3 separate regions of the Homo sapiens genome follow, and all the other regions are linked to region 2. The links come from fine-mapping of genetic effects on gene expression. A gene starts in region 2. Each other region holds a variant in brackets. All regions are shown on one strand. Distances are from middle to middle.

Region 1 (8,593 bases), 29 kb after region 2:
ACCACGACCAAACCATATCAGCCAGTATCTGCCATCCCAAGTGAACTTAGTCTGTGAACTCAAAATAGTGCTGGCCAGGCATGGTGGCTCACGTCTGTAATCCCAGCGCTTTGGGCGGCCAAGGCGGGGGGATCATGAGGTCAGGAGATCGAGACCATCCTGGCTGACATGGCGAAACCCTGTCTCCACTAAAATACAAAAAAATTAGCAGGGCATGGTGGCACATGCCTGTAGTCCCAGCTACTAAGGAGGTTGAGGCAGAAGAATGGAAGAATGGCTTGAACCCAAGAGGCAGAGGTTGCAGTGAGCCGAGATCGCGCCACTGCCCTCCATCCTGGCAACAGAGTGAGACTCTGTCTCAAAAAAAAAAAAAAAAGTTCAGAAAAGGCAGAGTTTCTTCTGGCGAGTCATTCCTTTCTTTGGCTCTGTGACCCGCCCTTTAGGAGCATCGTGCAGATGGACTGGCTTGTCCACCTGGTGGCCCTATCAGGGTATATGGGCTTGGCATGGAAAAAGCCTCTGCTCCTTGGATCACTAATATTACCTTGATCATCATCATTACCTGACCAGAGTACTAGACACAGTTTCATGAAGAGAAAGCAAACCCTTTCATCCTGAAATTTTAACTTAGTTGCTCCTCCCATGGGGTGATTCTTGGTGCAGGGGAGATATCTATTTGCAAATTGAGGGGCATTTGTGTCTACCTTCTTGACTTAGGTGGTTTCTGTTTTGTTTCTCGTTATGGTTGTTGGCTGTCCTTTCAAGATTATTTCTACGCGTCAAAAAGTCTGTGAGCTAATTTTAACATGTCAGGCATCTTACTGGAAACCACACATTTACTCCGAATAAAGCTACAACATGCTAACTAAAACTAAGTTTGTTTGAACTATTCAAACCATTGTGGTCATCTCATTCTTACTAAAAACCTTTTCTGGTAAGTTTCATTTATTTATTTATTTTTATTAGTACAAATGGGAAAATAAAGTGGTGATTCATAGGTATAAATATTATATGGCAAAATTTCTTCAACACTTGAAATTATTAGTACCACCTGAGAATTACATCAGGTCAAATCAGCATTTGGTAAATAGTAGTCACCATTTGTAGAATTAAACCATCCAAACTTCTAATCTATCACCTAGGGCTAAGGACTCACACACTTCAGCTCTGGGGACCAAAATGCTGGCTTCAGGAAGCATAATGATTTTAGCCTCGATACAGTGATGGCATAATCAATCAAGTTGTATCCTGCCTCTTTTCTCTCACCTAAATTTGATTTGTGTGATTATTTATTGCAGACAGTTTTGCAAGCTGACTTTAATCCTATCTTGGAATGAGGTGGAGTATAAAAGAATACAAATCAACAAACATGCTAATGTATTTTAAGAAGGAGATAGGAGAGTTTGGAAATTGGAAAGGGAAATTCTAAATTTTGAGAATTGCTTTCTACTAAACCATCATTGTCCAGGAGTAACACACTAGCTCACTTCTTAATTTCAAGTCAGAAACATTTTCCCAAGCTTATCCTGGCCCGAAGGAACTGTGACGCTGCTGACCACTGATGCTCACCAAGCAATCATCTCTTTGAGGTTTGGTCTCCCACTTGAGTCAGGGAGAGAATGTATGGGGCAGGTTTATTTTCACTGCACATATTTTTCAATGTAGATCTTGTTCATAGTTTTAACTGGGGATTGGTTGGTGTGAGTAACTCGCATGAAACTGAAAAATGCGCTGGACACAGTGGTTCATGCCTGTAATCCCAGCACTTTGGGAGGCTGAGGCAGGCAGATCACCTGAGGTCAGGAGTTCAAGATGACCCTGGCCAAAATGGTGAAACCCCATGTCTACTAAAAATACAAAAATTAGCCAGGTGTGGTGGCGGGTGCCTGTAATCCCAGCTACTTGGGAGGCTGAGGCAGGAGAAGCTTGAACTCGGGAGGTGGTGGTTGCAGTGAGCCGAGATCACGCCACTGCACTCCAGCCTGGGCGACAAGAGTGAGACTCCATCTCAAAAAAAAAGAAACTGAAAAACTCAGATAAGATCAAGTTTGCACCTGTAAGTTGTGGATAGGATCCAATGTATCTTGGATAATTGTGCAGCCTCCACCTCCTGAAACCCTTTCTGGGTGTCCATCTGGTTTTTTTGGACATGGTCCCCCAGATACATTTGCTAAGTTACAACTATATCTTAACAAATATTTATAGGGACCTATGGGGGCTGGGAATAATAAAAAGGGTCTAATAGGTTGGGCAACCCCATCTCTACATCTCTACAAAAAATTAAAACATTAGCTGGATATGGTGGTGCCCACCTGTACTCCCAGCTACCTGGGAAGGAATTTTTAAAATTTTATTTAAAAAAAGGAAAGAAAAAAGAACCCATGATGATCAAAAGATTAGAAGCTACCAGTTTAGCTGGTACATCTTCTTCAGACTTTAGTGGTTTTGTCATTTGGATTGAACGCAGTTCCCACTGAAACTTATTTGGCCACTATCTGAAGTTGAAATATCACACAGTGACAATTGTTTGAAAATTTCAGCTCCCCTTCTCCTGCCTCCTCTTCATCTCTAAGTATTTTCACTCCCATCTACTCATGGCAGTATCTGGCCACTGCCCATTCTCAGACCAGAAAGGGATCAGGAAAAGGCCAGTGTGTGGGGTGAGGCTGACTTCCAACAGTTGAGCTAGTACAGAGCCACTGAGCATTTCCCTCCCTAGGGCTCACTCTTCCTCAAAACTGCTAGTGTCTTGCAGATCCTCTCTCAAAACAAAAGAGGAAGTCAGAGGTGGAGCAGGGAGTGGTTTGAACTACTGGTTTTACTGGAAAAGGATTCCTGTTCCAAACCTCAAGAGCAAGTTCTT[C/T]GATCTTGAGCAGGAAAGAATTAAGGACAGGGCGCAGAGTACAGTATAGTTAAAACAGTTCATTAGAAACTACTCTATTACAGAGTAGGGCATCCTCAGAGAGCAAGAGGAGGAATGCCCCTACTTTAAATGTAATGCTTGCTTATACAGGATATTAAGGTTAAGAATAGTTTACTTTGGGAGTCCGAGGTGGGTGGATCACGAGGTCAGGAGATCAAGACCATCCTGGCTAACACGGTGAAACCCCATCTCCACTAAAAATACAAAAAATTAGCCGGGCATGGTGGTGGGCACCTGTAGTCCCAGCTACTCGGGAGGCTAAGGCAGGAGAATGGCATGAATCCGGGTGGCGGAGCTTGCAGTGAACCGAGATTGCGCCACTGCACTTCAGTCTGGGCAACAGAGCCAGACTCCATCTCAAAAAAAAAAAAAAAAAAAAAAAAAAGAATAGTTTACTTTATTATAAAGGCTTGTGATCAAGTTGTGACAGGCTATTAGTATTGTTATTCTCCGGTGTAACTATTGATTTCAGCAATAATTTATGAGTGTAGTATTATCTTTAAAGTGAAACCCATGTTTATTTTTATGTGTTTATTTGCTTACACCTTCACCACCACAAGAAACCCTCCCACCCACCTTTTTTTTTAAGACAGAATTTCACTCTTGTCGCCCAGGCTGGAGTGCAGTGGTGCGATCTTGGCTCACTGTAGCCTCCACCTCCTTGACTCGATCCTCTTTGATCCTCTGGATTCTCTCACCTCAGTCTCCATGCCCAGCTAATTTTTATTTTTATTTTTTTATAGAGATAGGATTCTACCATGTTGCCTGTCACGTGTGTCCGTGTGAAGAGACCACCAACGGGCTTTGTGTGAGCAATAAAGCTTTTTAATTACCTGGGTGCAGGCGGACTGAGTCCAAAAAAGGAGTCAGCAAAGGGAGATGGGGTGGGGCTGTTTTATAGGATTTGGGTAGGTAGTGGAAAATTACAGTCAAAGGGGATTGTTCTCTGGCGGGCAGGGGTGGGGGTCACAAGGTGCTCAGTAGGGGAGCTTCTGAGCCAGGAGAAGGAATTTCACAAGGTAATGTCATCAGTTAAGGAAGGAATCGACTGTTTTCACTTCTTTTGTGATTCTTCAGTTGCTTCAGGCCATCCGGATACTTACACGTGCAAGCTTGGGCTCAGACGCCTGACATTGCCCATGGCTGGTTTGAACTCCTGAGATCAAGCAATCTAACTGCCTTGGCCTCCTGAAGTGCTGGGATTACAGGTGTGAGCCACCATGCCATCCAAGAAACCCATTTTTAAACTAAGAATGCCTTTTTCCATCAACTCATTTCCTCAACCATAAACATTTTGTGATTAACAGTGCCCAATTTCCTGGGAAAGTAACCCAGCAGGTTTGGCTTCATCTGGCCTTTATTCAAGATGAGTCACTCTGATTGGGACACCTCGAATACTGGTGCAAATACCCAAAATGAAACAAAACTGCCTGAACTTACTCATTACCCCCTTCCTTACAAAGCCAGCAGACTTCCTTTTTGTAATTTCCTTCCCCTTCAAGTTTCCTTTCCTTTCCTGTTCTTTCTTTTTTTTCATTCCTTTTTCCTTTCCTTTCTCCTTTCCTCTTTCCTGTCCTTTCCCCTTTCCTTTCTTTTTCTTTTCTTCTTTTCTTTTCTTTCCTTTCTCCCTTCCCTTCCTTCCCCTCCGCTCCCCTCCCCGCTTCTCCCTTTTCCCTCCCTTCCCCTCCCTTTCCCTTGCCCTTTCCTCCCCTCCTCTTCCTTCCTCTCCCTGCTCTCCCCTCCCTTCCTTTCCCTTCCTTTTCCTTTCCTTTACCTTTCCCTTCCTTTTCCTTTCCTTTCTTCTCCTTTCCATTATGGAAATTTTTAAACATGCACTGAAATTAGAAAGAAGCATATGATTTAATCCCCAAGTGCCCATTACATGCAGCTTCAACAGTAATCAACATTTTGCTCATCTTGTTTCATCTCTTCTCCTTATTTTGTTATTTTTACTTATTTGTTTATTGCTGCAGTATTTTAAAGTTAATTGTGAGTTTATTTTTAATGGAGTCTCTGTCTCCCCATGGTACAACTTGAGGCTGGGCAGAGGAAACCAAGCTTGATGAGTTCAGTGCCTCTGCCTGCCTCCCTGGCTCTCCATTGCCGCCTCACAGTTGGAATCAGGTGCGAAAGCTATTTCACAACCTGATATTTATTCTTCTCATAAATGTTGTTGACTACCTTCATTGTTCCACACACTTTGCTTGGCACTGAGGACAAGAAGAGAGATGGCATAGGAAGCTCTCAGCTCAGTGTGCTGGAAGATAAGTAAAAGGGCAATCCTGACGGTTTGGCCTGATTATTTCCACAGGTGGAAGAGTTTTATTTACCATATAGGCCTTCTTAAGTTTGCTTCGTAAATCTAGAGCCATATACTATTCACAAGGCCACAGAATGAACTTCTTTCTAGAAGTTTCCTTAAGAAATCTCAGACTGACTTTTAAAAGCCTCTATTATTTGCTGTTGTGAGGTTAGAAAAACCAAGCTCAAGAATCTCTTTCCACTAGATTTTTACCCACAGTACCTATACATTTGGATGAATTTCTTTCTTCTCAAGTTTCTCATATTTTCTTGAAGTTTCTTACCTGCCAAGAAGGTAAGGAACCAAGAACTAGGAAGTGACCTTCCTCACCTCCTGCAAGACTGGGACTCTGTAAGCCAGATCCCAGGTGGGTTTTTCTGAGAGGATTTTGTAGGCATTGGCTCATCAAAGCTGATTAAAGGAGCACCATTCTCAAAAGTGACATTCTGGCCCACACCTTGGTTGTGTAACTGTTTTTCTGTTATATCCTGGCAAAAAAGAGAAAAGATTCTTGCTGAACCTATTCAGATAACTATACTGTTATAAAAAGTAAGAAAGGAGGTAAGAGTTTCTGAATTCTTAGTTGGAGTATGTGGGTCAGTAAGAATCAGATATCATTTAAAAATGTTTATTTTTGATAAATATTTTAATTTTCAAAAGCTCCTAACTTATGAATTAGAGAGATTTTAAGAAGAAAGGAAAAAACCTTGTTTATATGTTCAGAATAGAACATTAAAACAACATCAACATTAAAGCAGAACTTTAAAACAATATTCCAAACAAATAACTACAACGTTTCTTTATAAGTTCATTCAGCTTTACATAATTAATTCTTATTCTGTTGAAACTTGAGTTAACTGTCATGAAGAGGTTTTTTTTTTAAATAAAAAAACTAAAATGAGTTTTGGAAATCTGGAGTCAGTCTACAGGTTTGATATAAAAAAAATTTTTTTTTTTTTTGAGATGGAGACTGGCTTTGTCACCTAGGCTTGACTGCAGTGGTGCGATCTCTATTCTCTGCAACCTCCACCTCCCAAGTTCAAGTGATTCTCCTGCCTCAGCCTCCCAAGTAGCTGGGATTACAGGCCCCCCGCCACCACTCCCGGCTAATTTTTTTTGTATTTTTAGTATAGACAGGGCTTTGTCATGTTGGCCAGGCTGATCTCAAACTCCTGATCTCAGGTGATCCACCCGCCTTGGCCTCCCAGAGTGCTGGGATTACAGGCGTGAGCCACTGCACCCAGCCTGATCTAAAAATTGTCTAAATGATGTTACATCAAAAGCCTATATCCAAGTATATGCTTTGAAGTATTAATAGTTTGAAATATCTGGTACAATCGTTTTTCATGAGGCTTTGAGACTGTCCTTCTTTATTGAAGACACAAATTGTGGCCTGTAATTTATAGCAGAGTCTTTAGGCAAACATTAGAGTAGAGCAAAAACTATCTGTAGGTGACAGAGCTTTAAAATGACTGTGGTTAGTTTATTACCAATAATTTTCAAATGTGAAAGGTTATGCAGGCTCATGATAAGAATAATGCAACTTACAGGCCGGGCGCGGTGGCTCACGCCTGTAATCCCAGCACTTTGGGAAGCCGAGGCGGGCGGATCACGAGGTCAGGAGATCAAGACCATCCTGGCTAACATGGTGAAACCCTGTCTCTACTAAAAATACAAAAAAATTAGCCGGGCATGGTAGCGGGTGCCTGTAGTCCCAGTTACTCGGGAGGCTGAGGCAGGAGAATGGGGTGAACCCAGGGGGCGGAGCCTGCAGTGAGCCGAGATCGCACCACTGCAATCCAGCCTGGGCGACAGCGAGACTCCGTCTCAAAAAAAAAAAAAAAAAAAAAAAAAAAGCAACTTACAAAGAAATTTGGTTATTTCTTCAACATATACAACCAGATAATAAAGTCATCTCCAATAATTTTTAGATGAAATATCTCTAAAGATAATGATTAAGCCTATTTCAAAGAAGAGAGTGAATATTACTTACACTGATAAAAATGTTTGAATTTTTTTTTTCTTTTGAGACATTCTGTTGCCCAGGCCGGAGTACAGCAGTGTGATATCGGCTCACTGCAGCCTCAACACTCTGGGCTCAGGTGATCTTCCCACCTCAGCCTCCAAAGTAGCTGGGACTACAGGCACGCACCACCACACCCAGCTAGTTTTTGTATTTTTAGTAGAAACAGGGCCTTTCCATGTTGCCTAGGCTGGTCTCAAACTCCTGTGCTCAAGTGATCCACCTGCCTCAGCTTCCCAAAGTGCTGGGATTACAGGCTGAATGAGCCACTGCACCCGGCCTGAGCATGATTTTTATCGAGGATGACACCCAGAATATCAGAGAGCTGGCATCTTTTCTAGCAGAGGTATAGGCTGTAAAAAAACAAAGAACTTCTTGGCAGGAGTGATTCATAAATTAGATGTGATTTTGGGGAGCTCCTTTTGTAGACTGTTGGTTCTGGAAGTTTCTGTTGCACCAGAGTGGTTGTGGTTTGTTTAACGGTTCATATGTTATTAGCAAAACTCTTCCAAGATTGCAGAAGCTGCCCAAATCACTCAGTTAGAAAGAACAAGACATAATGTGGTAACTCCCCCAGAGATCAATCCATGGACTGAACCCATGGCTATGCAGGGCCTGAACAGGTAGAAATCTAGATCAGAGAACTACAATGATTAGAGAGGGGGAACAAGGATCATAAGAATAAAGTAGCAGGCAGACTAAGAAGGGTTGGGTTCTATAGATTGTGAGCAGGTTTGTGTAGTTCATTTTACAAATGTGAATTGTGATTCTTAATAATAACTAAAAATACCTATCTTATATATTCAAGATTGTTTTCGGAATCACTGGTAACCAATTGTTCTCTAGGTCCATGAGGAAATGATTTCACCTGGAACACATTATCAGGGTCTAGGCAGATGCTAAAAAAGAAAAAACAATGGGTGGAAGTCAGCAGATCGGGGCCTCATTCCTGTTCTGCCACTCGCCACCTATGTGGCCTCAGGCGAGTCACTTAACAGCTTGAGGCCTCAGTTTTATTGTAAAACCAAAGAAGTAATTTGAGACCTTCTTACTTGGTGGGGAAGTTGTGAGGATCACATGAGGTTACTTATGTGAAAATGAACTAAAATGTAGCACCATCTGTTTAGGTCCCCAGAAAGCCCAAACAGCACTTTTATATGAATGAGAAGAAAGGCTCTTCCTCCTGGTGAAGTCAACTCAGCGCTAGTTTGTACAGTTTGTTTACAGAGTATAGGTTAGGTTTTCATTTCTATTTACCCCCTTTGCTGGCTACCCTTAAGCAAACCATAATCTTCAGAAATGTTTCTGTAAGAAGAATTATACTACATAATATCATAAGAAAGCC
Region 2 (10,268 bases):
CCTGGTCCTGTGAAGGCAGCTCTCCTTTTCCATTGGGGAGCGACGCACAAACGTCAACTGTCACATGACCTGCCAGATGCTGCTGGGCTTGCAAAACCTGCACGTGACTAGAGGTTCTGCAAGCTATTGGGAGCGACGCCCATCGCGCTACCTCCAGACCAGGAGGTAGGGCTAGGCTGCGTCTGCTCAACTGGTCACGTGTTTCTGGAAGCTGCACGGTCCCTGTTGCTCTGCTCCTCATTGGTTCAAAGACACCACTAAAACACTTTTCTCCGGCTTTGCGTTGTAGCTGGTTTCCTATTGGCTGGTGACTTTACTTCTTTCGTCCTGTGATCCTAGCGGCGCAACTGCATTGGCCCGAACTTAGCGCCAGAACATGGGGGGCGTGGCTTATGCATTTTAAAGGAGGCTGGGCGGGTGCAATAAAGGAGTGCGGAAGCTTGGGATCTTCTGAGCGGGGAGAAAATGGACGGTGGGGAACAGTAGACAAAGTTAGCTGTTCTACTCAAAGAAGTACCTTTAAAAAGTCAGAGTAATGAGGTACCAGAAGGAAATGGATTAAAAAGTTAAGATTATCACTCCAGCCTTTGTCGCTAGAGTCACTTTCAGGACAGGACACAAGACTGGGTTTTCCTGGAAGCTGTCCTTACAGAGCCCCGTCTTTCCCCATTGCTGATCAAATTGTTAAATTATCTTTTCATTAGTGTCTCCACTACTAGAAGATTTCATCGTTTTACTAAAAAAAAAAAAAAAAAAATTCAATAGAGATGGGGTCTTGCCTATGCTGGACTCAAACTCCTGAGTTTGATCTCCTGCCTAAGCCTTCCCAGTAGCTGGGACTACAGGGACAAGCCACCGTGCCTTTACTCAGTTTTATGACCACCAACCTTTAACATACGCACAAGTTTGTAGATTGGATTAATCAAATACAAGGTTATTTTCGTCACCTTATTTGACAGATGGGACAGTCTTTAGGCCTGTCTCAACTTTGCTTCCAGCAAAGGGGCAGTGCCTCCTCCCCTACCTGAAGTCTCGTGTGGTCTTTATGGGCGCCTGAACCACACCTGGATTTTTTCCCAAGTCATAGCCCAAACTGGGACTGCTTTAAATATGGGAAGCAACAAGGAATTGATAAAAACAATAAACCCCGAGGAGGTCCATTATCAGTTTGGCTAGCAGACTCTCCACTAAGAAAGGAAGTGCATCAAAGAAAGTACAGCCAGCCCCAAATATGTAATAACAAAGGAACTGCAGATGTCCCAGCACTTGGCTGCTACAGGGGCTGGAGACTTCACCTAGGTCCTGATTTTTTTAGACAGGGTTTTCTCAGGCCAACTTCTACTTGGAAGCTAGTAACCTTCGACCAGTTAGATAAGAGCCCCTAACAGACACTTAAAGAACTAAGGAAGCTCCAGATACAAAATAGGGAAGAGGTTGTAGCTCCATAGAGGGAGGCCAGTCTGCTGCTTTTTCTGCTGTTTGTGGCACACAGATGCTCAAGCATTGTCTGGGGTTGGAGTAGGATCCATTATTTGCGCCCTAGTTACACATATATTCCAAAAACTGTCCTAAAAATATTTTTTAAATATCTACACTTTGTGAAAGACACTCCTTAAAAAAGCTTACACTCTGGGTAGGGAGACAGAATAGTGTAAACATTGACAGTATAACATATCAGGTCAGGAGTGGTGGCTCATGCCTGTAATCCCGGTGTTTTGGGAGGCTGAGGTGGAGGATTGCTTGAGCCCAGGAGTTCAAGGTTACAATGAGCCATGATCTAAACCTGGGCAACAGAGCAAGATCGTGTCTCAAAAAAAAAAAAAAAAAAAAGAAAATCAGCACTAGTATTTTATTACATGGAAAAATATCAATACTAGAAATTCATGATACAGCACATGCTTCATAATAAAAGAATTAAACAATGTAATTCAAGTTCAAGAAAAGAAGAGATCACTTCTAGCTAGAGCAGCCAGAGAAAACTTCTAAAACATAAAGAAAAATGAGTATTGTGCATGGATAACTAGGATCTGAGCTCTGTGTTGTTGAGTAGATCAATAGGCAGAAAAATGCAAAAAGTAATCATAATATTTGGAACTTGCTCACAGTTAATAAAGCATTTTTTTTTTTGAGACAGAGTCTCACTCTGTCGCCAGGCTGGAGTGCAGTGGTGTGATCTCTGCCCACCTCCCGGGATCAAGCGATTCTCCTGCCTCAGCCTCCCGAGTAGTTGGGATTACAAGTGTGTGCCACCACACCCAGCTAATTTTTGTATTTTTAGTAGAGATGGGGTTTCACCATGTTGGCCAGGATGGTCTCAATCACTTGAACTCGTGATTCACCCGCCTCGGCCTCCCAAAGTGCTGGGATTACAGGCGTGAGCCACTGTGCCCGGCCAATAAAGCACATTCATAGTTATATTCATTTTATTTCAGAACCCACTGTGATGTGGACAGGGAAGGCAAGACTATATCTTTATTTTACAGATGTGGAAACTGAGGCTGTGTAAACTGGAGTCATTTAAGCTAAGTGACAGATTGAAATGGAGCTCTAAATCCCCGTCTTCTGACTTATGATCTAATATTTTACATTCAAATAATTTGATAGGTAGATTGAAAGGGACAGAAGCACAGAAGTGGCAGAGAGAAGGTGCTTGGGATGAGCCCCCTTTTATGCTAAATGCCTGGAACATAGAAGCTGCTTGATAGATGGCTCTCTAATTAATTAATGAAGTAACTTAAGCCCCATCTTGGGATAAATTTGCTGGGTACTGAACAATATTGTTAGCTGCAGTTGCAAGCAGGGAGGATATTCAGCTGGGGCACTACAGGGTGGCTGGCATTGGTTGTTTATGGCGCCATTGGTTCTGATTGGTTGGTACCTGTATTTTACAGATAAGCCATTTTAATATTATCTCTGGTAAATATTGAGTGTCTCAGGTATTGCCTGATTTTTACCTATGGGGTGGGATCTTCTCACTTAGATTGAGAACAGTTAGGCTATTGAGGTGTATTAATTTGCTAGGACATAAAAAACACTATAGATAGCATAAACGACAAACATTTATTTTCTCACAGCTCTGGAGTCTGGAAGCCCAAGATCAAGATATTGGCAGGTTTGCTTTCTCCTGAGGCTTCTCTCCTTAGCTTACAGATGGCCACCTTCTCACTGTGGCATAAATGGCCTTTTCTCTACACACATTTTTGCTTTCTCTTCCTCTTTCTCTTCTTTTTCCGTGCTTTTAGAGACAGGGTCTCACTCTGTCACCCAGGCAGGAGTGCAGTGGTGCAGTCATAGTCTGTGGCGGCCTTGAACTCCTGGGCACAAGCAGTCCTGCCACCTCAGTCTCCCAAGTAGCTGGGATGACAGGTGCATGCCACCATGCCTAGCTAATATTTTAATTTTTTGTAGAGACAGGGTCTCACTATGTTGCCCAGGCTGGTCATTGGTCTCTAACTCCTGGGCTCAAGTGATCCTCTTGCTTTGGTGTCCAAATGCTGGGATTACAGGTGAGCACCACCCTGCCTGGCCTCTCTTCTTCTTATGAGAACAACAGTCTTATTGGATTGTGGCCCCACCATTATGACCTCATTTAAACTTAATTACCTTTTTAAAGGACTTATCTCCAAATATAGTCACAATGAGGATTAGAGCGTCAATATAAGAATTTGGGGGAACACACTTCATTGTGTTATATAATAGAATAGATTTCAAAGCATTTTTTTCTTTAGATTTCCAACAAAGTGATAACTAGTACAGTGTGTACATGGCCAGAGGATGGGGTGGAAAACATCTGCTTGGCTTCTATGACCCAAAGTGTCCCAATCTGATTTCTTTTTTTTCACATATTCCACATGCCCTATTTCTTTTTTCCTCTTTCCTGAAGTGGTAATTTACCACCTGTGTGAAAACAACACAATCCCTTACTGCATTTCAAAGGCACAGAAAGTTTCTGGTAATGTGCAGAGTGAGTTAACTAAGACGAGGGGTAGTTTGCCGGGGGTTGGGTGGGATTGGGTAGGGTGTGACCTGGTTTTAAAGAATTAATTTACGTTAATTACATTGGGACTTTGCTCCCTTGTGCTCCTTGCTCTTCCTGGGCCTCAGTTCTTTGCTCTTTCCTTTAGGGAATTCCTGGCTTCCCTTTCTAGGAGCCAAGGTCTTTGGAATAGAGGGTGGTAGGCCAGTCCTTTATCTCTGCTCTGTTCTTCCTGCCACTGAGTGAGGCACAGATGGAAGTCTCACTCTTAGAAAAGAGAAATAAAAGTGATCCCTATAACAGAAAGAGAAGGGCTGGATGTGCTGGTTCATGCCCATAATCCCAGTACTTTGGGAGGCTGAGGTGGGAGGATCACTTGAGCCCAGGAGTTTGAGACCAGCCTGGGCAACATGAAGATACCCCATCTCTAAAAAAATAAAAATAAAAAATAGGCGAATGCGGTGGTGCGTGCCTGTAGTCCTAGCTACTTGGGAGGCAGAGGAAAGAGGATCGCTTGAGCCTAGGAGATTGAGGCTGCAGTGAGCTGAGATTGAGCCACTACACTCCAGCCTGGGTGGCAGAGCGAGACCCTATCTAAAAACAAACAAACAAACAACAACAAAAAAAAAACAGGGAAAAACCCTAAAATGTTTTAATTTCAGTAATTGGAGAAAATGGAAGACCAAAGATTATGGTGATAAGGGGAGTAGATATTTTATTTTATTTTTTGAGATAGGGTCTCACTCTGTCACTCAGACTGGAGTGCAGTGGCTCCATCACAGCTCACTGCAGCCTTGACTTCCTGGGCTCAGGTGATTCTCCTGCCTCAGCCTCCCTAGTAGCTGGGACCACAGATGCCACCACACCTGGCTAATTTTTGTATTTTTTGTAGAGATGAGACTTCACCATGTTGCTCAGGCTGGTCTCAAACTCCTGGGCTCAAGTAATCCTCCTGTCTTGGCTTCCCAAAGTGCTGGGATTACAGGTCTGAGGCACTGTGCCTGGCCAGGGATAGATATTTTTAAAACCGCATATTTAGCTTGTGATCTAGAGAGAATAAGAGATCTCAGTTGAGAGGGCAGGAATAAAATACGTTCCACAAGGCAATACTGAGTGACTTAGAACCTATTCCTGCCACTTTTTTTTAGTTTCCTTGATCTTGCGGGTGGAGGGTAAGTGTGTTACTAAGTATGTTCCTGGACAAGGAGTCCCTCTGAAGATAGAAGTGATGAGAAGATAGAAGAAAAGGTAATAAGGCATTAATGAACTCTAATCACACTAAGATTGATGATCGTCTGGTTCCTGTCTATAGGAATGCTACAGGAACTCTTTTACCCTAAAAGTAAATAATAAAGCACAGTTCCAGTTTCTTTTATGTGGATACAAGGTGGCAGTGACTAGAAAAGATAAGAACAGTGCTGTGCTCTAGCATAAAAACGTAATTATGCTATGCAATATGGTAGCCACTAACCACATGTGACTATCGAGAAGTTACAATGTAATTAGTATGATTAGGTAACTGAATTATTTTTATTATATTTCATCTTAATTAATTTTATTACTTTTAAATAGCCACACATGGCTAGTGCCTTCTGTTTTGAACAGTGTGGGATTCATTGGTATTGATAGGCTGGATATACCTCTAGTTTTTATTTTGATTCAATTTATGGTTAGGTGAGTCTAGAAAGAACAAAAGAGAAAGAGACAATGGAGATTAATCATAATAGCCAGCATTTAATGTGTGCTTATTATATATCCAGGCATTTACCTAAACATGTAAAAGGTATTCTGTATAATCCTTGCAAAAATACTAAGATTATTGCTATTTTACAGATGAAAAAATTGAAGCATAATAAGAATTTTACTTGCCTAGAATCACACGAGTAAATAAGGGGTGAAGATGGCATTCATACACAGGTAGTTTTATTAGAGCCCATTCATTTACACTACATAGATTCAGGAATGAGGTGGCATGGAGTGACTGGGGCCATGGTTCCCAAACTGTGCCAAAGTACAAGCTCACAAGGGTATTGTGGAATATTTTTAATTTTCAGAGGAAACACAGCAATATTTTATATTTCTTAAACACTGTGTGACCTATTAACTTGAGGTGATTCACAGTTGGAACATTAGATTGTGCTACATTCCTTTTGATGACAATATATCTGGCCAGGTGTGGTAGCTCATGCCTATACTCTCAGCACTTTGAGAGGCCGAGGTGGGCAGATCAGTTGAAGTCAGGAGTTCAAGGCCAGCTTGGCCAATATGGCAAAACCCCGTCTCTACTAAAAATACAAAAATTAGCCAGGCATGGTGGCAGGCACCTGTAATCCCAGCTACTCGGGAGGCTGAGGCAAAAGAATGGCTCAAACCCAGGCAGCAGAGATTGCAGTGAGGCAAGATCGTGCTACTGTACTCCAGCCTGGGTTACAGAGTGAAACCCTGTCTCAAAAATATATATATATATAAAGACAACATATCTTTACAAAAGATGGTTTTAGAAGGTCCCTCTGATAAAAATTAAGTATTAAGTAAAAAAAAAAAGTACTGTGTAAAAATCAGCATGGAACAGAAAATGAGGGTGGCAGCATTGGATTCCTGCATGTGAGAAGTTGAGTAGTGCCAAACAGATGTACATATCCCGTAAGTAACTGTTTGTGGTTATTTAAGAACGAAATTTTTTTTTCAATTTGTGTGCATTGTTATTTTCAAAGTGCTAGTAAGTTCTCAGGAACCAGCTACTCACTCTGTTGCCCAGGCTGGAGTGCAATGGTGTGATCTCAGGTCACTGCAACCTCCACCTCCCGGGTTCAAGCCATTCTCCCTGCCTCAGCCTCCCAAGTAGCTGGGATTACAGGCGCCTGCCACCACGCCCAGCTAATTTTTTGTATTTTTAGTACAGATGGGGTTTTGCCTTGTTGGCCAGGCTGGTCTCCGACACCTGACCTCAGGTGATCCACCCACCTCGGCCTCCCAAAGTGCTGGGATTACCGGCGTGAGCCACCGCGCCTGGCCTTTATATATAAATTTTTTTTTAATTTTTTAAATTAAAAATTAAATGTAAATTTAATGTAAAAATGTAAATTAAATGTAAAAATTAAATTGTAAATGTGGGCAGAAGTAATAGTTGTATTCTACCAAAGACACGCTATTTATGTTATATTCTGGTACCCGTGTATTCCGATAACAGAATTTTCTTCGTGGGAGGAGTCCTCTAGTTACCTGAATTGCTTGGATCAATATTGCGCAGATCAAGGGATTATCTGTGTCCCTACCCACCAAATCCATCCTTATCCTTTCTGTCGGCATCTAGGACCCCGGAATTCTTGCCTGAGAACTTTTTCTTCTCCCGGTCTGGGCCTGGATGTGCTCTCCTAAACCCTGTATCCTCCAAGTTAGCACTGTTGCCGGGGGCGACCCAGCTTCCCTTGTCCAGGGAGCAACTCAGACACAGTCTCGCTTCATTTTTATTCTGGGGTTGTACAATCTAAGGTATGAAATTTTTCCTTTTTGAATCTCTCACGGTTTGCTATTGACACAGCTGGAATGAGGTTGCAAGGAGAGGGCTGGGGGCTCTCCTCCCTACTTCTAGCCCTATTTCCGCATAGGCCTTCTTGCTGGGAACTCCTGCCCTGCGGACTGGAATGGGTACCGAGATGAAATGCTGGGTGCGCTCCGGCTCCCCCCGCCCGCCCCGGGGCAGAAGGTTTAGGGCTGGGAAGAACTCTGATTAGGTTTACAGCCCAGGTTCAGCCGATTGAATTAGGGTGTGTCACCATGGAGACAGGGCCGGCCCGCGTGCTCGCTTGCCATTGGCTGGGGACTCCAGGGCAAGGGATATAAGCCAGAGCCTAGACCAGTGAGCCAACTGTGCGAACCAGACCCGGCAGCCTTGCTCAGTTCAGCATAGCGGAGCGGATCCGATCGGATCGGAGCGGATCGGAGCACACCGGAGCAGGCTCATCGAGAAGGCGTCTGCGAGACCATGGAGAACGGGTGAGGAGGGCACCAGGCCCGCAGGACCCTTGGGGAGGGGCAGGTGCTGTGACCCGGGAACCTGGCACACTGGGCCCAGAGGGAGCTGGCGGAGGGAGCGAGCGCCCAGGGGATGCAGAGAGGCCTGGCACTGAGCCTAGTGTCGGGAGCAAGGCGGCAGAGTCATGCGGCAGCCAGCGCGGGCAGGGACGCACGCGGGAATCGAGCTGGGGTGGCGCCACCGGAGCAGGAAGGGGACAGGTCGGTGCGGTCTAAGCTACTCCGTAAAAGCAGCCGTTGTGTGTCTCCGTGTGTGTGTTAGGGGAACAAGTGGAGAGTGAGTATATGTATATATCCCTCACTCCATACCAGGAGGAGGTCTCCTCACCCCCTGCGCTCTTCATAAATTCCCATGCTAGGGTCTGGGTAAAGCTGCGAGGTACTTTTGGTGCTCAAATTCGGAGTTCCTCCTTTAGAGGCAAGATTACTCACCTCCTTTGCCAGTTGCACTCCTCCCTTCCTTCCAGACTGGCAGTATGATTAACTCGGTGGGAAGTGACTGCTAAGTGGAGACGGAAATCAGTCACCGAACTGAGCAACAGTCCTGTGCTCACTTCCCCCACCCCACGCCTTTGAAAACTCTTCTCTCGGCTTGGGTCCTGGATATCCCAGTCCAAGTGACCTGCATTAGGCATCACAGTTGCTTTTGGATGCCCAGGGAGCCAGGGTGTTCTTGAGGGGACTGATAGCCAATGAGGAAGTGCTGTGAGATGTGGCTAGACATGCCATGTGGCGGCAGCTTCACACATTCATTTCCTTTGCACCTTTTGGGGATGCCATTTGATTAACATTTTACCAGCTTAATTGCTTCTCTCCATTGTCCTGTGGCTCCGTTGACCAGCCCCCAACCTACCTGATCCAACTGCTTCCCTGAGGGTAGCCTGGTGTATTGTGCAATCATGTCTGGTTTCCCGGGCTCTGCTTTCCAAGTAAAAAATTTCCTGTGAAAGCTTGGTTAGTTGTGTTCAGCTCTGTCACACCTCATTGCCACCTCTGAAAGCAACGTTTGGTCTTCCCAGATGGATGTGAGAGAACTGGACTTGGAACTGGGAGAAAAGTAACACGGGTTGATTCTTGCTAGTGTAGGGGTTCTGGGTAAGTGCCCTGAGGTTTCTGAAGAGCAAAGATCCTCGGTGGAGAGAAAGGAAACTGGGAGGAGGCAGGGAGGGGGAAGGACAGGAAGAAGACCACAGGCAGGTGGAAAGCAGGAGAAAGATTCAAATACTTTGTGTAACAGAGCCATAGGTCTTTGGAAGTTGTTAGCAAGTATTCAATTCATTTTCAGATTGAGCCTATAAGATAGATGGGGCCAATTTACATCCCTTGTTTATACCTGAGAAAATAATTTAAAGCACAAATTACATGCCTAAAAAGACAATATTGGGACTAGAATCTAGGTCGAATTCTGCTTCCCTCCAGACCAGCAATTCCTAAACCTGGTTTTATTTTATTTTATTTTTATTTATTTATTTTGGAGTCGGAGTCTCGCTCTGTCTCCCAGGCTGGAGTTCAGTGGAGCGATCTTGGCTCACTGCAACCTCTGCCTCCCGGGTTCACACCATTCTACTGCCTCAGCCTCCCGTGTAGCTAGGACTACAGGGGCCCGCCACCACGCCCGGCTAATTTTTTTTTTTTTTTTTTTTTTTTTGTATTTTTAGTAGAGACGGGGTTTCAACATGTTAGCCAGGATGGTCTCGATCTCCTGACCTCGTGATCCGCCCACCTCGGCCTCCCAAAGTGCTGGGGTTACAGGCATGAGCCACCGCGCCCAGCCCCTAAACCTGGTTTTAAAATCAAAATTACATGGGCTTCAGAATCTGTTTTTTGTGGGGGTTTTGTGTGTGTGTGTGTGTGTGTTTTTTATAGGGTCTCACTCTGTCACCAGGCTGGAGTGCCAGAATCTGTTTTTCTAACAAGCTTCTGCTGAGAATTTGTGTAGTCAGTCCTGGTTTAACCTTTGACAACCAGTACTGTGGACTGGGTCTGCTTTTTTGTACAGCAGTTTATCTAGTTTTTTGTCTGGAATTAACCCCCTTGTGATCCAGGGAGCTAAGAATGGCACGTAGACCTCTACCAGGGGTGGTCCCATTGTGTTTTATTGGTTAAAACAAAAAAGAAATGTAGCCCTTAAGTCTTTGGCTGAGGAAGGAACTGGAGGAATGAGGGTTCAAAAGGAAATTTGAGTTTATCTCTGCCTTCATAGTAGTTGGTCTTAATTACATTTTGAATGTCTTTGGGGAACAGGTAAGGTAATAAG
Region 3 (9,950 bases), 45 kb before region 2:
GGTATAGCAGCACCAGTGGATGGAGACATCAGGTGATACTAATGTGCAGAAAAGTTTAGGAACCTCTGCTCGAGGGTCTCACTAATCAAAGTATGGGATTGTGGACCACAACATCAACATCACCTTGTTAGAAATGCAGACTCTCAGGCTCTACCCCAGATCTACTGAATCAGAATCTTTTAACAATATTTTCAGGTTATTCCCACTCACATTAAAGTTTGAGAAACACTGATCCAGACAAGTGGGGTGGAACCTGAGAATCTATATTTCCAAACACTGTGGTCAGGGCCCAGTGATTTGTATTTTAACAAGCTGTCCGGTTGGTTTTGGTACATGCTTAAATTTAAGAACCCCTGATTAGGCAGGGTGTGGTGGCTCATGCCTATAATCCCAGCACTTTGGGAGGCTAAGCGGGCAGATCACTTGAGCTCAGGAGTTTGAGACCAGCCTGGGCAACATGGTGAAACCCTGTCTCTATAAAAGATGCCAAAAAAAAAAAAAAAAATTAGCTAGGCATGGTGGCCCACACCTGTAGTCCTTGCTACTTCTGGAGCTGAGGCAGGAGGATTGCTTAAGTCCAGGAAGTCGAGGCGGCAGTGAGCTGTGTTCGTGCCCTGGCAACCTGGGTGACAAAGCAAGACCCTGTCTCAAAAAAAAAAAAAAGCTCTGATTAAAACGAAGATTGTTGCTCATCTCTTTTGAAAATTTCTGATTCAGTAGGTAGGTCTGAGATGGAACCTGAGAATTTGCACTTCCAGCAATTTCTCAGGTAATCATGACTCTTATCTCTGATCTGAGGTAAACATTTAAAAAACTATTAATCTAGGATGATTACCTAAACAGAAGCGATAGTTACTACCTACCACATGGCAGAGGTAGGTAGTAAATAATGCACCTGTCACACTTGAATTGCATATATAAATTAAAAATTTGGCCCAATTCCCAGATGTTCTGTTCCAATCACACAGCCACTGAATGATCCCTAAAGGACATTTCAGCTGTGTTTTGAGGAGCCAGATAAACTATCTCTGCCTTGCAACAGAGAAAACCTTTCAACTGGCAAGATGTTCACAATGTTCAAATTCAGCTTTTCATACCCGTAGGAAGTGCTAATCATATTGCCAATATTTGCTTCTTTGAGTCATGCTTTCCTAAGTTAGCCATTCCCTTGAGTTGAACCAATCTTTCTTCAGATGACTATCATTAGAATAAATCAGGAGTTTTGCCAATCAAATAACTATACCAGGGCTGGGAAGATGTGCCATTTCCCACTGGAATGAAATCACTTAACTCTCACAGAACCATCTTACATTCCTTATTTGCAAGTTCTTAAAGGACCATTCACTTTCTCCTGCATATAGGCCAACACCACCTTACTGTTGATTAGTAGCATTGAGCTGCGATGGCCAACTGATGGGTGTAATATCCAGATTTGTCTCTGGGACAAAGGAGTGCCACCCCCTCAGTCTTCCCTTTTGGGAAGGGTCCTACCACCTGTTAAAATTGCTCACTTGTGGTCAGTTTTCTTGCATGTTCATTGTCCTCCTCTACTTTGATCAACAAACATCTGCTAATCCCCTGTCAAAGAATAGTGCTAGTACATGGGTAAAATGTATACAACATGCCTTCTTCTCAAGACTTCATCATCTTGTAGAGATAGACACATGTAGAAATCACAAAAATACAAGGCAGATAAAGAGAAGTGCTATAATGGACTAAGAGACAAACTATAGGGTTATATAGGTGAGAGCAAGGATCTCAAGCAACTCCCTGGAGAGATGGACTTTGAACTGGGAAGGGCAGGCCTCTGATAAGCTGGGAGGGGAGTGACCAGTAGGAAGTGGAAAGGCCATTGGTTTTACCTGATTTTTTTCTTCTTTGTGAATGATTACCTTTAGATTCACAGTATACGTTTGTTTGACCTAACCATCACAACTTAAAGCATCACACAAGCCGTGATATGTGGACAAGCACACACTTACTGGATAGCCACTTGTCACCTCAGACAAGCCCTTCTGGGCCATCTGAAAGCAGATTACAAGAACCTCAGTGTCTTCTCCCTTCTGACTCTTCTGAATCAAAACAACCCTGCATTTGGCCTCTGGTCTGTGGACATTTGCCAATATCTTTCTTCATCTTTCTTTTTTTTTTCTTTTTGAGGCAGAGTCTTGCTGTGTCGCCCAGGCTGGAGTGCAGTGGCACGATGTCGGTTCACTACAACCTCTGCCTCCTGGGTTCAAGCAATTCTCCTGCCTCAGCCTCCCAAGTAGCTGGGATTACAGGCACCCACCGCCATGCCCAGCTCATTGTTTGTATTTTTAGTAGAGACAAGGTTTCACCATCTTGGCCAGGCTGGTCTCAAACTCCTGACCTCAGGTGATCCGCCCACCTCAACTTCCCAAACTGCTGGGATTACAGACATGAGCCACCATGCCCGACCTCTTTCTTCATCTTTCTTCAAGGACATTCCTCACTGACTAGTCTCCCTAATCGGGTATGGTAATTAAAATAGGCCACAAATTCTTTGCTTCCTCTCCCATTGAGAGGCAGAGTCTAATTCCTTCTTGAAACTGGGCTGACCTGGTCACTTGCTTGACCAATATAATGTGGCAGCAGTTGCATTCTGGGACTTCTGAAGCTAGGTCAAAGGAAACTTGCACTTCCTCCAGGACTCTGGAACACTCCCTTGGGAAGCCCTGAGCTGCCATGTGAGTCCAACTACCGTAAGACTGCCACTCTAAAGAGGCCACATGTAGGTGTTTCAATTAACACACTCAACTGAGCTCAGCCTTCTAGCCATCTCCACCAGGGCACCAGACATGTGCCCTGTCTGGTGCCCTAGTGGAGAAAGAAGCAGTCTTAAGTCCCTCAGACCAGTTCATCTACCAATTGTCTATTATCAAGTAACTTCCACTAATGACACATGAAACAGAAGAATCATCTAGTGGAAGCCTGCCTAAATTTAGTGAAGTCAGTTACACATAAAATTGTGAGATATGATTAAATGGTTGTTGTTTTAAGTCACAAAGTTTTGGGCAGCAAATGATAACTGGTACACTAGGCCTGCAAAACATAAGACAGTTTACATCAGGGTACTCTGTAATCATCCTACTTTTTTTTTTTTTTTTTTTTTGAGACAAAAACAGTACACCTGATCCCGAAAAGGATTTGAGTCCTGCTTTTGGATGGGATGAGGCAGAGGTAATTGGAAGTAAACTTTGGATCTCAAAATAGTGAACTTGGTGCCGGGCACAGTGGCTCACACCTGTAATGCCAGCACTTTGGAAGGCAGAGGCAGGCAGATCACCTGAGGTCAGGAGTTCAAGACCAGCCTGGCCAACATGGTAAAACCTCGTCTGTACTAAAAATACAAAATTAGCCGGGTGTGGGGGCGTGCACCTGTAATCCCAGCTACTTGGGAGGCTGAGACTGGAGAATTGCTTGAACCTGGGAGGTGGAGGTTGCAGTGAGCCAAGATCACGCCACTGCACTCCAGCCTAGGCAACAAGAGTGAAACTCCGTGTCAAAAAAAAAATGAAAAAGAAAAAAAAGGCCGGGCATGGTGGCTCATGCCTGTAATCCCAACACTTTGGGAGGCCGAGGTGGGCGGATCCCAAGGTCAAGAGATCAAGACCATCCTGGCCAACATGGTGAAACACCATCTCTACTAAAAATACAAAAACTAGCTGGGCATGGTGGCATGCGCCTGTAGTCCCAGCTACTCGAGAGGCTGAGACAGGAGAATTGCTTGAACCTGGGAACGCGGAGGTTGCAGTGAGCTGAGATTGTGCCACTGCACTCCAGCCTGGTGACAGAGAGAGATTCCGTCCCAAAAAAAAAAAAAAATAGTGAACTTGGAACATTTTAATGACTTGTAGGAAGAATTTAAAAAATAGGGGAATTCAGATAATCAGGGAAGAACTGGAGTACTTGGCTGCAATCCAAGATATGGGTGAAGATAGTATATTACATATATATATATATATATATATATATATATATATATTTTTTTTTTTTTTTTTTTTTTTTTTTTTTTGAGATGGAATTTTGCTTTTGTTGCCCAGGCTGGAGTGCAGTGGCATAATCTCGGCTCACTGCAACCTCTGCCTCCTGGTTTCAAGCAATTCTCCTGCCTCAGCCTCCCAAGTAGCTGGGATTACAGGCACCTGCCACCACCGCTGGCTAATTTTTTGTCTTTTTAGTAGAGACAAGGTTTCACCATGTTGTCCTGGCTGGCCTTGAACTCCTGACCTCAGGTGATCCGCCTACCTCTGCCTCCCAAAGTGCTGGGATTACAGGAGTGAGCCACCACACCCAGCCAGATAATATATTATATATTAAATATGGTTGTTTAAACATGAACTCTGGAGTCCAACAGATCTGGGTTTATTTTTTATTTTTTTATTTTTATTTTTTGAGACAAAGGTCTTGAAACATGTGCCACCACACCTGGTCCAATGGATCTGTGTTTAAATCCTCCTCTGCTACTGACTAGCAGTGTGACCTAAGCTGTAGAAGAAAATAAGGTTAATAATCTCAACCCTCAAAGGGGCCAGAGAGTGGTCCTTGAGTCTGCAGTAAGATCACATGATGCTGATTTGGCAAAGGGGTCAGGCTAGGTTCTCCGTTTGAAAAGTCTCACCTCCTGTCTCATTTTCATAACAATCCCCAGCTCAATACATCCTAATAAGTGAAAAAAACTGCTGGAAGGAAGAACCCACTGCCCCTTTCTCTGGCTGAGCGTCTTTTAAATTCACAGCTATTTGCATTACAGCAATTGGATGTTAATTTTTCAAGACCATGTCTCCAAACCTCCAGTGGCACTTATACTCGCTCATTGCTCCCACTTGTAGAGCCCATGTATGAGTTTCATGGATAAAGCTTGCCACTCAAGTGGAGATGGAGCTACATTAGAGAGGGGGCATAATAAAGTCCTTCTACCAGTTTAAATACATGCTCAACATTTACAAACTCCTCTAATCTTCCAGTTTTCTCATCTATAAAGTGGGAATAATAATAGCACCCGCTTTTTATGGACTGTATTGTCATTCAAATTAGATAATATACATAAAGCACTTAGCATACCACCTGGCATATAGCTAGCACAAACAATGATAACTATAATCTAAAACAAGCAGTTCTAGGCTGGGCACAGTGGCTCACACCTGTAATCCCAGCACTTTGGGAGGCTGAGGCAGGTGGATCACCTGAGGTCGGGAGTTCAAGACTAGCTTGGACAAGATGGTAAAATCCCATCTCTACTAAAAATACAAAAATTAGCCAGGCATAGTGGCAGACTGCTGTAATCCCAGCTACTCTGGAGGCTGAGGCAGGAGAATCACTTGAATCTGGGAGGCGGAGGTTGCAGTGACCCAAGATCGCACCACTGCACTCCAGCCTGGGCGACAGAGTGAGACTCTGTCTCAAAAAAATAAAAAATAAAACAAGCAGTTCTTACTCTGCAATGAAAGAGTTGGCTTTCATCAGTGACAGCTTGCTTGAAAAGTGTGTATTGGGGCTCAGATTGCCTACCTGGCAATTAGTCAAACTGATATATAGGCCGGGCGCGGTGGCTCACTCTTGTAATCCCAGCACTTTGGGAGGCTGAGGCGGGCAGATCACTTGAGGTCAGGAGTTCAAGACCAGCCTGGCCAACATGGTGAAACCCTGTCTCTACTAAAAATACAAAAATTAGCCGGGCATGTGCCTATAATCCCAGCTACTCGGGAGGCTGAGGTAGGAGAATC[A/G]CTTGAACCCAGAAAGTGGAGTTTGCAGTGAGCGGAGACTGCGCCACTGCTCTCCAGCCTGGGAGACAGAGCAAGACTCTGTCTCAAACAAAACAAAACAAAACACCAACTAACTGATACATAGCTCTCTAACTATATGCCTTGGCCTCATTTGGAATCCAGATGAATCTGCTTCCCTGTCTCAGGAGTACATCAGGCTGGAGTAGCTTATAACCTTCTGTACGGTACTCGTGGTCTCAGGAGCCTGTCACTACGGTATACTGGCCTCCTTGTTTGGCATCATTTAGCTCTCTGATCTAAAAGGATATGTCCTAGGAACTTGATTTATAGATTACCAAGGCACACTTTTCCAAATGTGCCTAGAGGTCCTTAGGACTGTCCCAAGCTCTGGGGTTCATGAGCTATAATAACACTGTGGTGTTTACAATACCATTATGGTGCTTATTTTATGGGGTACGAACTTGGAATTCAAACTGGTTAAAGGACTTACTCATAATTACCAAAGCAACAATTGAATTGAAACTTGAAGCCAAGTTACTGAATCTAGCTCAGTACACTTTCAAGGCTATACGTTTTTTTTGTCATTCTTCTAATACTGTATTTGTCTGTTCTCACATTACTATAAAGAAATACCCTAGACTGGGTAATTTATAAAGAAAAGAGGTTTAATTGTCTCATGGTTCTGCAGGCTATACAGGAAGCATGGCAGCATCTGCTTCTGGGGAGGCCTCAGGAAGTTTTCAATTATGGAAGAAGGCAAAGGAGGCGTGAAACGTCTTACATGGCAGGAGCAGGAGCAAGAAAGAGAGTGAGGCAGAAGGTGCTACACACTTGTAAACAACAAGTTCTCACGAAAACTCACTACCAGAAGAACACCACCAAGGGAATGGGGCTAAACCCACCATGGAAACCACTCCCATGACCCATCACCTCCCACCAGGCCCCACCTCTGACACTGGGGATTACAATTTGACATGAGATATGCACAGGGACACAGATCCAAAACATATCAAACACGAAATATAGATTATTAAATTCTGAATCAGCTACAGTAATAATACCATGATCATTTCTCTCTCAGAGAAAACAGACTATAATCTCACCACTAATGATATATATGTATGTATGTATATACACATAAATATCTATCTATCTATAATTTTTTTGGTAGGTGTTTTACCAGGAGCTGTGATGAATTCACACGTTTTCACTTAGGGCTCCTTGATCTCAAGGGCTAGACAGGATTTAGGATATAGTCTATGATCCTGAAAGAGTAATTATGACTGTCCTGTCTATAGACCTCGTCTGTGATGTTTGTCTTAGCCTGCCTGTTGGTCCTAATGTATGTGAGAGACTAGTTTCATGAAAAGCCTTCCTCTTCATTATCCAGACTGTGTACCACATAACTTTATTTCCTAAGCTGTGTAACAAAAGGTTTGAATTACATGATCTCTGAAACCTCTCCATTCTATAATTCTATTAAATAATCTTTCTATGCAATTTTTCTTTTATTCCTTTTTTTTTCAAGATGGGGTCTCACTATGTTATCCAGGCTGGACTCGAACTCCTGAGCTAAAGCAATCCTCCCACCTCAGCCTTCTGAGGAGCTGGAACTATGGGCATGTAGCACGGTGCCTGGCACTTTTTCATTCTTTTGATTGAACATTGTTGCTTCTACAACCCAGAGTGTCTGTCTGGGTAAGTAATAATTCTTGGTTTCACAGCTAGTGAAATTTTCATATAAATTTGCTCTTCTATTTTTTTAAACCTTCCTTGCTATCAATTTTCCATATATTATTATTATTAATTTGAGACAGAGTCTCACTCTGTCACCCAGGCTGGAGTGCAGTGGTGCAATCTCAGCTCACTGCAACCTCCGTCTCCCGGGTTCAAACAATTCTCGTGCCTCAGCCTCCCATGTAGCTGGGATTACAGGTATGTGTCACCACACCTGGCTAAAAATTTTCCGTATATATTATATTTAACACAGAAAAGATTGGGAGAAGACACTAAGTCAGTTTTTCTTTGGGTAGTCCAGTATTACATGATGAGTCAAGTAAAGAAGAAAAGATAAAGGAAAATAAGCTCAAGAGGATTCCAAAGCTTCAGGCCCAGGAAATAGGAGAAATGATAGTGCCAATAAAGCATGAGGAATCTGAACTAATGATGCTGGCACATCTAAATGGAGGTGAGAATCACTGAAAAAAATCAGACTAGAACCCAGGCGAACCATCAAGGTTGGAGACAGAGGAGAGGTGAGCTTCCTGACAGGGAGCATAAAACAAAGGAAAGGAAGAACGTGAGCAACCCAGCCAGGACTAGGCACAGGAGACAAGTGATACCTAGAGTCCCACACACTTACTTGTACTAAACATTAACCTGCATGTCCAGTCCTACCCAGTACCTGAGTCAACCTTGGAAAGATAAGAGAGATATCAGAAATTTCACCCTCACCAGCAAAGGGGGTGGAGGGAAGACTGTTGGGGGAGCTATTAGAGAGCATCTAGAACACCTTGGCTTATCATCTGATTCACCAAAGGTAAGAATCCCAGGCCTCTACAGTCATCAAACTAGTCTTGCCAGGTCACCACCACGGCTGCCCAATCTGTATGCATAGTTTCTATCCCAATTCCTACTTCTCACTCCACTTCCCTTCTGGGGTTGAAATGTTACCCTGATATTACCCTATTCTTAGTCTGCCTGGCTGAAGACCCAGACTGTTACCTTGCCTATATTCAGTCCCTTCTCACTGATGAATGGACTATTGACTAGGGTCCTCCTTCAAGTCAGAGGTCTCCTCTCTCCTCACTCTTCCCTCAGTTTTAAAGACAAATAATGAAAGTCAGAACTTTCTGCAATGAACCACCCTCATCCACATACCTGTGGATCCTTGGCTATCAGCTCCAAGGATGAAGCCACACCCCCCTGGACACTTTGATCTGGCTTACTGGATTTTGGATTGGAGAAATAAGAGAAGGTCCATCCAGGAGAGTGTGCTATCTCTAAAGCCAGAAGAAGAGAAATTTTTAGGGTAAGAGCCAGTTTTCACGCCAATCAGTTCCTGTAGAAAGATGAAAGAGAATGAAGATGGCCACAGATTGTTAGATTTGGTAAGAAGCAGGTCACAGTAACAGTGGAGGGAGATGATTTCAATCATGTGGTAGACCTAGAAGGCAGAATACAGGGAATTTTATTTTGAATGCTTTTTATAGTAGAGAAACTCAGATAAGAAAGATTCAGTCACTATGAAACCTTTATTTAAGTCTGCCTTTAGGTACAAATCACAAAAAATGTTCATAGAAGTTCATCCAGAGAGCTTGTCATCTCCTTCAATTTCCTTCTTCCCGTTCTTTATTCTTCCTTCTCTTTTCTCTTATACATCCTACTTACCCCTTCTCATTTTCAATTACATTCCTAGTCTATCTTAAATAGAGATACAGAAAAAGATCTTACTAAAATAACGAAATCTAAAAATAAATAAATAAAATACATGCCAAGTACTTCTGGGGCCAGAATGAAGAAGGGTGCAAGGGAGACTCCATCATCACCCTTAGAAACATGAAAATCTTAATAAACAATGGTAATAGAAAACTGACCTACACAGGCCGGGCATTGTGGCTCACGCCTGTAATCCCAGCACTTTCGGAGGTCGAGGTGGGTGGATCACCTGAGGTCGGGAGTTCAAGACCAGCCTGACCAACATGGAGAAACCCCGTCTCTACTAAAAATACAAAATTAGCCAGATGTAATAGCTGTAATCCCAGCAACTCAGGGAGGCTGAGGCAGGAGAATCACTTGAACTCAGGAGGAAGAGTTTGCGGTGAGCTGAGATCACGCCATTGCACTCCAGCCTGGGCAACAGAGTAAAACTCTGTCTCAAAAAAAAAAAAAAAAAAAAGAAAAAGAAAATTGACAACAGGTGCTGGAGAGGATGTGGAGAAATAGGAACACTTTTACACTGTTGGTGGGACTGTAAACTAGTTCAACCATTGTGGAAGTCAGTGTGGCGATTCCTCAGGGACCTAGAACTAGAAATACCATTTGACCCAGCCATCCCATTACTGGGTATATGCCCAAAGGAATATAAATCATGCCGCTATAAAGACACATGCACACATATGTTTATTGCATCACTATTCACAATAGCAAAGACTTGGAACCAACCCAAATGTCCAACAATGATAGACCGGATTAAGAAAATGT

What was found. PIP is the estimated chance that this variant, and not a neighbour inherited with it, causes the effect. A credible set is the group of variants that fine-mapping cannot tell apart.
Region 1: its variant is the best candidate, but not a certain one, in a credible set for the expression of PNP in sun-exposed skin (GTEx, PIP 0.74).
Region 3: its variant is the best candidate, but not a certain one, in a credible set for the expression of PNP in whole blood (TOPMed, PIP 0.75).

The regions. Positions count from the first base shown.
Region 1 is chr14:20,491,083-20,499,675 of GRCh38, forward strand. No RefSeq gene overlaps it. Among named protein-coding and RNA genes, the nearest start is that of RNASE10, 10 kb to the right of the region's middle. RefSeq lists an enhancer at 589-688. The variant C/T (reference allele first, on the strand shown) is at 2,864.
Region 2 is chr14:20,461,564-20,471,831 of GRCh38, forward strand. PNP (purine nucleoside phosphorylase) reads left to right here and starts at 7,843. Exons shown (of 6, transcript NM_000270.4): 1 at 7,843-7,972. The coding sequence starts at 7,962. RefSeq lists enhancers at 1-157, 86-155, 7,610-8,114, 8,305-8,374, 8,405-8,534 and 2 more and a silencer at 7,775-7,894.
Region 3 is chr14:20,416,870-20,426,819 of GRCh38, forward strand. KLHL33 (kelch like family member 33) reads right to left here. Exons shown (of 5, transcript NM_001365790.2): 5 at 8,983-9,950. Among named protein-coding and RNA genes, the nearest start is that of TEP1, 8.3 kb to the left of the region's middle. The variant A/G (reference allele first, on the strand shown) is at 5,748.